2 separate regions of the Homo sapiens genome follow, and region 1 is linked to region 2. The links come from fine-mapping of genetic effects on gene expression. A gene starts in region 2. The other region holds a variant in brackets. All regions are shown on one strand. Distances are between the middles of the regions.

Region 1 (5,215 bases), 240 kb before region 2:
CTACTCAGAGTAAATTGTTTTTCAACTGACACCCAGATCAGGATATAATTCATTCTACCATAGCTGTGTAAACGAAAACCACTTAAATGAAATCTCTGTTAAGAGAAGGATGACTTTTCCGCTCATTATTGTATTCCCAGTATCTGTTAATTGTCAGGAATTTAATAGGTGGTAATTAAAATAGCTGTTTAATTAGTGAACAAGGTCTGCACATGGAAAATTCGAATGTTATCTACTAATTACAAAACTTACTAGCTACATTTCATTACAGCAAACTGTTTAGCAGTCCATGTTTTATAAAGACTTCCTAGGTCCAGTAATTGTATCCAAAACATTACAACAGAAGCTCAAATCTCCAACCAAAACTTGAAGTCAACGATTAGCAAAGATGGCTAATTTTATTTATTTTATTTTATTTTATTTATTGTATTTTATTTTTTGAGATGGAGCCTTGCCCTGTCACCCAGGCAGGAGCGCAATGGCCCGACCTCGGCTCACTGCAACCTCTGCCTCACGGGTTCAAGCGATTCTTCAGCCTCAGCCTCCCAAGTAGCTGGAATTACAGGCATGCACCACCCCATCTGCCTAATTTTTGTATTTTCAGTAGAGACAGGGTTTCAACATGTTGGCCAGGCTGGTCTTGAACTCCTGACCTCAGGAGATCTGCCCACCTTGTCCTCCCAAAATACTGGGATTACAGGCAGGAGCCACCACGCCCAGCCTCAGCTAACTTTATTTTTTTTCTATTATACTTTAAGTTCTAGGGTACATGTGCACAATGTGCAGGTTTGTTACATAAGTACACATGTGCCATGTTGGTGTCCTGCACCCATTAACTCGTCATTTACATTAGGTATATGTCCTAATGCTTTCCCTCCCTACTTCTCCCACTCCATGACAGGCCCCGGTGTGTGATATTCCCCTTCCTGTGTCCAAGTGTTCTCATTGTTCAGTTCCCACCTATGAGTAAGAACATGCGGTGTTTGGTTTTTTGTTCTTGCGATAGTTTGCTGAGAATGATGGTTTCCAGCTTCATCTATTTCCCTACAAAGGACATGAACTCATCATTTTTTATGGCTGCATGGTATTCCATAGTGTGTATGTGACACATTTTCTTAATCCAGTCTATCATTGTTGGACATTTGGGTTGGTTCCAAGTCTTTGCTATTGTGAATAGTGTCACAATAAACATACGTGTGCATGTGTCTTTATAGCAGCATGATTTATAGTCCTTTGGGTATATACCCAGTAATGGGATGGCTGAGTCAAATGGTATTTCTAGTTCTAGATCCCTGAGGAATCGCCACACTGACTTCCACAATGGTTGAACTAATTTACAGTCCCACCAACAGTGTAAAAGTGTTCCTATTTCTCCACAGTCTCTCCAGCACCTGTTGTTTCCTGACTTTTTAATGATTGCCATTCTAAGTGGTGTGAGATGGTATCTCACTGTGGTTTTGACTTGCATTTCTCTGATGGCCAGTGATGGTGAGCATTTTTTCATGTGTTTTTTGGCTGCATAAATGTCTTCTTTTGAGAAGTGTCTGTTCATGTCCTTTGCCCACTTTTTGATGGGGTTGTTTGTTTTTTTCTTGTAAATTTGTTTGAGTTCATTGCAGATTCTGGATATTAGCCCTTTGTCAGATGAGTATGTTGCAAAAATTTTCTCCCATTCTGTAGGTTGCGTGTTCACTCTGATGGTAGTTTCTTTTGCTGTGCAGAAGCTCTTTAGTTTAATTAGATCCCATTTGTCAATTTTGGCTTTTGTTGCCATTGCTTTTTATGTTTTCGACATGAAGTCCTTGCCCATGCCTATGTCCTGAATAGTGTTGCCTAGGTTTTCTTCTAGGGTTTTTGTGGTTTTAGGTCTAACATTTAAGTCTTTAATCCATCTTGAATTAATTTTTGTATAAGGTGTAAGGGAGGGTTCCAGTTTCAGCTTTCTACATATGGCTAGCCAGTTTTCCCAGCACCATTTATTAAATAGGGAATCCTTTCCCCATTGCTTGTTTTTCTCAGGTTTGTCAAAGATCACATAGTTGTAGATATGCGGCGTTATTTCTGAGGGCTCTGTTCTGTTCCATTGATCTATATCTCTGTTTTGGTACCAGTACCATGCTGTTTTGGTTACTGTAGCCTTGTAGTATAGTTTGAAGTCAGGTAGTGTGATGCCTCCAGCTTTCTTCTTTTGGCTCAGGATTGACTTGGTGATGTGGGCTCTTTTTTGGTTCTATATGAACCTTAAAGTAGTTTTTTCCAATTCTGTGAGGAAAGTCATTGGTAGCTTGATGGGGATGGCATTGAATCTGTAAATTACCTTGGGCAGTATGGACATTTTCACGATATTGATTCTTCCTACCCATGAGCATGGAATGTTCTTCCATTGGTTTGTATCCTCTTTTATTTCATTGAGCAGTGGTTTGTAGGTCTCCTTGAAGAGGTCCTTCACGTCCCTTGTAAGTTGGATTCCTAG[G/A]TATTTTATTCTCTTTGAAGCAATTGTGAATGGGAGTTCACTCATGATTTGGCTCTCTGTTTGTCTGTTGTTGGTGTATAAGAATGCTTGTGATTTTTGTACCTTGATTTTGTATCCTGAGACTTTGCTGAAGTTGCTTATCAACTTAAGGAGATTTTGGGCTGAGACAGTGGGGTTTTCTAGATATACAATCATGTCGTCTGCAAACAGGGACAATTTGACTTCCTCTTTTCCTAATTGAATACCCTTTATTTCCTTCTTCTGCCTAATTGCCCTGTGCAGAACTTCCAACACTATGTTGAATAGGAGTGGTGAGAGAGGGCATCCCTGTCTTGTGCCAGTTTTCAAAGGGAATGCTTCCAGTTTTTGCCCATTCAGTATGATATTGGCTGTGGGTTTGTCATAGATAGCTCTTATTATTTTGAGATAGGTCCCATCAATACCTAATTTATTGAGAGTTTTTAGCATGAAGGGTGGTTGAATTTTGTCAAAGGCCTTTTCTGCATCTTTTGAGATAATCATGTGGCTTTTGTCTTTGGTTCTGTTTATATGTTGGATTACATTTATTGATTTGCGTATATTGAACCAGCCTTGCATCCCAGGGATGAAGCCCACTTGGTCATGGTGGATAAGCTTTCTGATGTACTGCTGGATTCGGTTTTCCAGTATTTTATTGAGGATTTTTGCATCAATGATCATCAATGATATTGGTCTAAAATTCTCTTTTTTGGTTGTGTCTCTGCCCGGCTTTGGTATCAGGATGATGCTGGCCTCATAAAATGAATTAGGGAGGATTCCCTCTTTTTCTATTGATTGGAATCATTTCACAAGTAATGGTACCAGTTCCTTCTTGTACCTCTGGTAGAATTTGGCTGTGAATCCATCTGGTCCTGGACTCTTTTTGGTTGGTAAGCTATTGATTATTGCCACAATTTCAGATCCTGTTATTGGTCTATTCAGCGATTCAACTTCTTCCTGGTTTAGTCTTGGGAGAGTGTATGTGTCAAGGAATTTATCCATTTCTTCTAGATTTTCTAGTTTATTTGCATAGAGGTGTTTGTAGTATTCTCTGATGGTAGTTTGTATTTCTGTGGGATCGGTGGTGATATCCCCTTTATCATTTTTTATTGCATCTATTTGATTCTTCTCTCTTTTTTTCTTTATTAGTCTTTCTAGCAGTCTATTTTGTTGATCCTTTCAAAAAACCAGCTCCTGGATTTGTTAATTTTTTGAAGGGTTTTTTGTGTCTCTATTTCCTTCAGTTCTGCTCTGATTTTAGTTATTTCTTGCCTTCTGCTAGCTTTTGAATGTGTTTGCTCTTGCTTTTCTAGTTCTTTTAATTGTGATGTTAGGGTGTCAATTTTGGATCTTTCCTGCTTTCTCTTGTGGGCATTTAGTGCTATAAATTTCCCTCTACACACTGCTTTGAATGCATCCCAGAGATTCTGCTATGTTGCATCTTTATTCTCATTGGTTTCAAAGAACATGTTTATTTCTGCCTTGATTTTGTTATGTACCCAGTAGTCATTCAGGAGCAGGTTGTTCAGTTGCCATGTAGTTGAGCGGTTTTGAGTGAGATTCTTTTTTTTTTATTATACTTTAAGTTTTAGGGTACACGTGCACATTGTGCAGGTTAGTTACATATATATACATGTGCCATGCTGGTGCGCTGCACCCACTAACTCGTCATCCAGCATTAGGTATATCTCCTGATGCTATCCCTCCCCCCTCCCACCACCCCACAACAGTCCCCAGAGTGTGATATTTCCCTTCCTGTGTCCATGTGATCTCATTGTTCAATTCCCACCTATGAGTGAGAATATGCGGTGTTTGGTTTTTTGTTCTTGGCGATAGTTTACTGAGAATGATGATTTCCAATTTCATCCATGTCCCTACAAAGGACATGGACTCATCATTTTTTATGGCTGCATAGTATTCCATGGTGTATATGTGCCACATTTTCTTAATCCAGTCTATCATTGTTGGACATTTGGGTTGGTTCCAAGTCTTTGCTATTGTGAATAATGCCGCAATAAACATACGTGTGCATGTGTCTTTATAGCAGCATGATTTATAGTCCTTTGGGTATATACCTGGTAATGGGATGGCTGTGTCAAATGGTATTTCCAGTTCTAGATCCCTGAGGAGTCGCCACACTGACTTCCACAATCCTTGAACTAGTTTACAGTCCCACCAACAGTGTAAAAGTGTTCCTATTTCTCCACATCCTCTCCAGCACCTGTTGTTTCCTGACTTTTTAATGATTGCCATTCTAACTGGTGTGAGATGGTATCTCATTGTGGTTTTGATTTGCATTTCTCTGATGGCCAGTGATAATGAGCATTTTTTCATGTGTTTTTTGGCTGCATAAATGTCTTCTTTTGAGAAGTGTCTGTTCATGTCCTTTGCCCACTTTTTGATGGGGTTGTTTGTTTTTTTCTTGTAAATTTGTTTCAGTTCATTGTAGATTCTGGATATTAGCCCTTTGTCAGATGAGTAGCTTGCAAAAATTTTCTCCCATTTTGTAGGTTGCCTGTTCACTCTGATGGTAGTTTCTTTGGCTGTGCAGAAGCTCTTTAGTTTAATTAGATCCCATTTGTCAATTTTGTCTTTTGTTGCCATTGCTTTTGGTGTTTTAGACATGAAGTCCTTGCCCATGTTGAGTGAGATTCTTAATCCTGAGTTCTAGTTTGATTGCACTGTGGTCTGAGAGATAGTTTGTTATAATTTCTGTTCTTTTAC
Region 2 (5,215 bases):
AAATTTCATCCTCATCTGAAGTCACTCCAAGGAAGCTTGGAAGCATGGGAACAAGACAACAGACAGAATCCCTTAGGCCTGGAGAAAGAAGAAAGGATCACAAGCTTCCTTTCCCCTTAACAGACCCAAGTGTCTGTAGAGCCCCAGGTGCCCCCACCTGGCCAAGTAGTTGGCCTTTTGGACCCCAAAAGTTCTCATATCCCAAGCCAAGGGGAAATTGGTCTACTCCAGCCAAGCCTCCTAGCCCCAGAAAGCCCATGGGGTCAGGACTTAGGGACAATCAGGGAACATATAAAAGGTCTTTCCTGCAATAATGGTCCCTAACAAGCCCTGAGCCAATCACCTGGTAGCTGGAGCCCAAAATACCTTCCAACCCAGGTAAGTAGATATTATATGGTGACTACAAAGATATATCCCATCAAGTGAGCAAACTTATCATATTCACATCCCTTTTTTGTTTCCATTCCTATTCATGTTTTCAATGTCCCCATTCTTCACTCGCCCCATCCCCCACTAAGTCCCTTTCTCCATTCATTGCAAGCCCTCTTAGTTTTTTCTTCTGGATCTGATGCCCTTAAGCCATCCCTCCTCTGTCTCCGATTCCAGGTCCACACCTTGCCCCTACTACGACCTCTCCCACTGGGCCCTGCCTGATCCTCTTTCTCTGCCCCTGTCCAGTTGCCCACCCTTGTCTCCCCCTCTTCTCCTCGCTCTATCCCCAGGATCCTGTGGGCGGCTGTGAATTTTGCCCTGTGCTTCCTTCTCTCCTCTCTCTTTGTGGTGGGGTCCACAGCCAGTTCTCCTGTTGCTCAAAAATGTGGAGGCAGTTGCTAAGAGACAGCGAAACGTCAGTACCTGGCCCTCGAGGAAAAAAAAGGGGAGTGAAAAAGGGAGAGAACTGGGGGAGGGATGGAGGGAGGGAGAGAGAGAGGGTGGGAAGGGGGGAGGGAGGGGGAAGACCTGGCTCTGGCGGAAGCCTTATACCCCAGCAGCCTGGGCACCAGCTGAGTTTCAGAAAGAAGCATTCAGATTCTGTGAACTTTCTTCCGAGCATCCTGTCTCTGTGATTTCCCTTTGGGTGAAAGAAGGGGCAGGGGGACCGCAGGACGGGAAATCATAGAAGATGCTGGCCTGGGATCCGGGAGACAAGGAGGAGGAGAGGCCGGGGGAGGGGAACAGCCTGGGAGGCAATCTGTTCTGAAGCAAGCAAGGAGCAAGCGGGGATTCCAGGAGGAGGGAGGGAGACCCGCGTCTGCCGCAGATTGATGGCTGTGTCCTTGGAACGGAGTGAGTAGGCTCCTGGGGCCTGTGGGAGTGCGAGGGGGAGACCTGGGGCTTAGAAAAATGAGTCTGCATGAAGGGGAGCTGGGGTGATTTCCAGGTGGGCGGGATTGAGGCTTGAAGCGGTAGGAAAATAGGCAGCGCCAGGCCGAGGGTGAGGGGAGGACCGAGGACAGCAGGTGGGCAAGGGAGAAGCGAGAGGGCGCGGGGCGCGAGGGCTGAGGCTCTGGGCGTGGCATCACTCTCGGTCCCTCTGCTGGGGGCGGCGAGGAGAGTGCAGTGTGTGGAAAGGGATGCTGGGATGAAGGGTGTGCGCTGAGAGGGGGGCGAAAGATGCTGGGGGTCGACTGGGGAGGGGTCTGCAGAATCGCCTGTGCAGAAGGAAGCTGGAGCGAAAACCGCGAGGCGTGAGCACGGGGCAGGGCAAAATACGGGGGAGTCACAGAATGGTGTGTGAGTGAGTGTGTGTGTGTGCGTGTGAGAGAGAGAGGAGTGCTTAGAGTGTTTGAAAGGGGTGTGCAAACCCCCAGAGTGTGGATGCAGATTTTTCTTAGGGAGTTGTTCAAGGGTGGCGTGTTTGGTACTAATGAGGGTGGGGTTATGAGAAGAAGAAGAAAATGCATCTAACCCAAGACAGGAACCCAGAGGAGGATGGCTGCAGGTTGGGTCAGGGAGGGCTCGTGGGTAACAGCAATGTGAGCCTGGGGTCTGAACCTACCATGGCCCACACCTGACAGACAGTAAGCAGAGAACTTTGTGGTTGGGGGAGCAAAGGAAAGAGACAAAGATAAGCCAAGCGTCCTAGGTGAAGGGACAAGGGAGTGTCAAGGGCACAGGATTTCTCTGCCTGAGTGCTTTCCTTGTTGACAGAGGGAATTTGGCCTCCACCTGCTGAACACAGAACTGCGCTGAGGAAGGCACTGGCTTGGAGAAGATGCCAGAGCTCTGCCAGCTGACACTCAGCCTGCACCTTCAGGACTCATGACTTCTTCTGGCCCCAGAGGCCCAGACAGTGGGCATCACCTGGGGTCCTCCTCTCTTTGGGAAAAAAAGAGGCTTCCTGGGGATTCCAGCAGCCACTGAGGCTGAGGACTCTCAGGCTTTTAGGAGGCCCATGGAGACTCACTTCCTCCCGGGCCCTTTTCCCAAAACACCCACCCTGGGACCCCCTTGGACTCCAGCCCACCAGGCCACCAGGACAAATGGCCTCTGAGACCTTCAACACTGAAGACCCAGGTGCAGCCCCGGCTTCCTAATCAGTCCCAGACGTGGGACAGGACTTAAGTTTTCTCAGAAGAAGTGCCAAGGATCTTTAAAGGGCACGTTTCATCTCCTTCAGCCCCTCCCTCCCAGACACAGCACCAAGAGGAAACATCCAGCAGGCATGGGTGAGAGAGACACAAAAGATCTGCAGGAACTCTTCCAGGACTTGCTGGCAGCTGACCTAGCCCCATTCTTGTCCCCTCCCTTTCTCAGGTTTTGATCATCATTCCAGACCCTAGGGGACCTCAACTGGGTGTCTTGCCCCCTAGGCTCCGGAAGGGGACCTCCCGTGGATCTCAGGAAGCCCTCTGGTGCTCAGAGGCTCCTGGGAAAGTCCCTAGCCATGATACCACATGCTCAGAAGCCCCACCTTCACAGACGCTGGCCCCAGATGTAGCTGCCTTCCTGTGTCACAGACTCTCGATTCCATGGACACAGTCCTCATGGGCTCCCTCCAGCACTGCTGTTGCCTGCTGCCTAAGATGGGTGACACTTGGGCCCAGCTTCCCTGGCCCGGGCCACCCCACCCAGCAATGCTGCTGATCTCCCTCCTCTTGGCAGCCGGGTTGATGCACTCGGATGCCGGCACCAGCTGCCCCGTCCTTTGCACATGCCGTAACCAGGTGGTGGATTGTAGCAGCCAGCGGCTATTCTCCGTGCCCCCAGACCTGCCAATGGACACCCGAAACCTCAGCCTGGCCCACAACCGCATCACAGCAGTGCCGCCTGGCTACCTCACATGCTACATGGAGCTCCAGGTGCTGGATTTGCACAACAACTCCTTAATGGAGCTGCCCCGGGGCCTCTTCCTCCATGCCAAGCGCTTGGCACACTTGGACCTGAGCTACAACAATTTCAGCCATGTGCCAGCCGACATGTTCCAGGAGGCCCATGGGCTAGTCCACATCGACCTGAGCCACAACCCCTGGCTGCGGAGGGTGCATCCCCAGGCCTTTCAGGGCCTCATGCAGCTCCGAGACCTGGACCTCAGTTATGGGGGCCTGGCCTTCCTCAGCCTGGAGGCTCTTGAGGGCCTACCGGGGCTGGTGACCCTGCAGATCGGTGGCAATCCCTGGGTGTGTGGCTGCACCATGGAACCCCTGCTGAAGTGGCTGCGAAACCGGATCCAGCGCTGTACAGCAGGTAATAGAGGGGCAGAACGGGGCAGTCAACAGGGAGGGCTTGCCTCAATGGGAAGCAAAGGCTCCAAAGAAAGCGGGGGAACTTAGAGCCAGAAAGCACCTACTGCATTTTCTAATGTGGGCTTGCCTCTTTGTACACCAGCTCGGCCAACAGGTTGTTTGTAGAATCCTTCCAGTGCATGTGAGGCACCGAGGGCCCATTCATTCATTAAATAGATGTCCCTCACCACTGCGCTGCTCATGACCTAATGAGGCAGACGGATAGTAGACAAGTGAGAATAGCCTATGGTTGGTGGTTTTTATTGAGCTTTCACCATGACCTAAGATCTTGGCATCCATTATCTCATGAGACCCCCATTTTTATTATACCCATTTTCCAGGTGAAGAAACTGAGATTTAGAACAATAAAAAGGCTTGACAGGAATCACACACTTAGAAAGTGGCAGGGCCATGAAAAAAATACAAATTAAAAAATTAAAAAGTGGCAGGACCATGAATAAAACCTAGATTTATCTGACTTCTAAGCCCTGTTCTAATCTACCAGAATGCTTTTTTAGCATTCCAAGTGTTGGAAACTCTCGTATAAATAGTAATGACTAACACAATCTCAACAGAGCTGCAATAGCTTAAGTTGCGTGACAGCCAATATGTTCCAGGAGGAACTTGAGACCTTAGTACTTGCTATTTACCAGGCCCTCTCTTAAGCAGCTTTACCTATCTCTTCCTATCCCCAGAAGAACACTAATGAGATTGCCACTCTACAGAGGAGGAAGCTGAGGCACAGAGAGGTTCAGTAGCTTGTTGGAAGTTACACAGCTGCTAAGTGTTGAAGCCAGGATTTGAGTCCTGGCAATCTCCCTGACTATATCCTGAAGAGTCAGGTTCTGGCCTGCCGGAAGAGTCAGAACCTGAGTCCTGGACTGGCCAAAGGGCTGCAGTAGAGTTCCAGGACCTCATGCAGCTCCAAGACCTGGATCTCAGCTACGAGAACCTGGCTTTCCTCAAACTCAAGGCCCTGAGCAGTGTAAACTTTGGGCACAGGGTAGGGAGCTGAAAGGAAGACTGAGATGCGGCAACTCAACCAGCCAATCCCAACTGGAGGGTGGACTGGGGCCTGAAGAAGCCCAAATCACATAGGTTTGATGGGCATCCCAACCCAGTGGCATCTGAGCCTGACCCAGAGGCAGGCAATGTTCAGCTGTGGCCCTAGCCACCAGCTCTCCTGTGTGACAACACCAAGACTTGGCACAAGAACCCAGAAGTAGTAGCTGAAGGCCCTATCCAAGGGGCTTTCCCAGAACCTGAGCTCAGCCCATGTTGAGAAGAAGCAATGCTGAATGTGGTAAAAGGGAGAGGAGGACTGAGTGGGGAGCCCAAGACCAAAATAGTTTGGGGAGGGCTGTGGGTCACGATTCCAGTGTTTCCACAGAGCTGTAGGAGGAAATTCTCTTGCATCAAAATAGCTGGGGACTGGGATGGGGCGATGGTGGAGGGCAGGAGTGGGAGGATGCCTGGAGCAATCTCTCAAC

Direction of the effects. Positions count from the first base shown, and alleles are read on the strand shown. Sizes are in standard deviations (SD) of each study's normalised expression.
For the expression in iPS cells of the gene that starts at base 2,957 in region 2, A is the high allele of the variant in region 1 and G is the other (moderate effect, 0.54 SD a copy in PhLiPS).

The links.
Region 1: its variant is fine-mapped to the expression of LRRC55 in iPS cells (PhLiPS, PIP 0.95).

The regions. Positions count from the first base shown.
Region 1 is chr11:56,938,328-56,943,542 of GRCh38, forward strand. All of the region lies in intron 1 of LOC105369310 (a long non-coding RNA gene), which reads right to left. Among named protein-coding and RNA genes, the nearest start is that of OR5AK2, 48 kb to the right of the region's middle. The variant G/A (reference allele first, on the strand shown) is at 2,474.
Region 2 is chr11:57,178,997-57,184,211 of GRCh38, forward strand. It overlaps LRRC55 (leucine rich repeat containing 55), which reads left to right and starts at 2,957. Exons shown (of 2, transcript NM_001005210.4): 1 at 2,957-3,687. The coding sequence starts at 3,027. All of the region lies in intron 4 of LOC105369309 (a long non-coding RNA gene), which reads right to left. RefSeq lists a silencer at 3,359-3,653.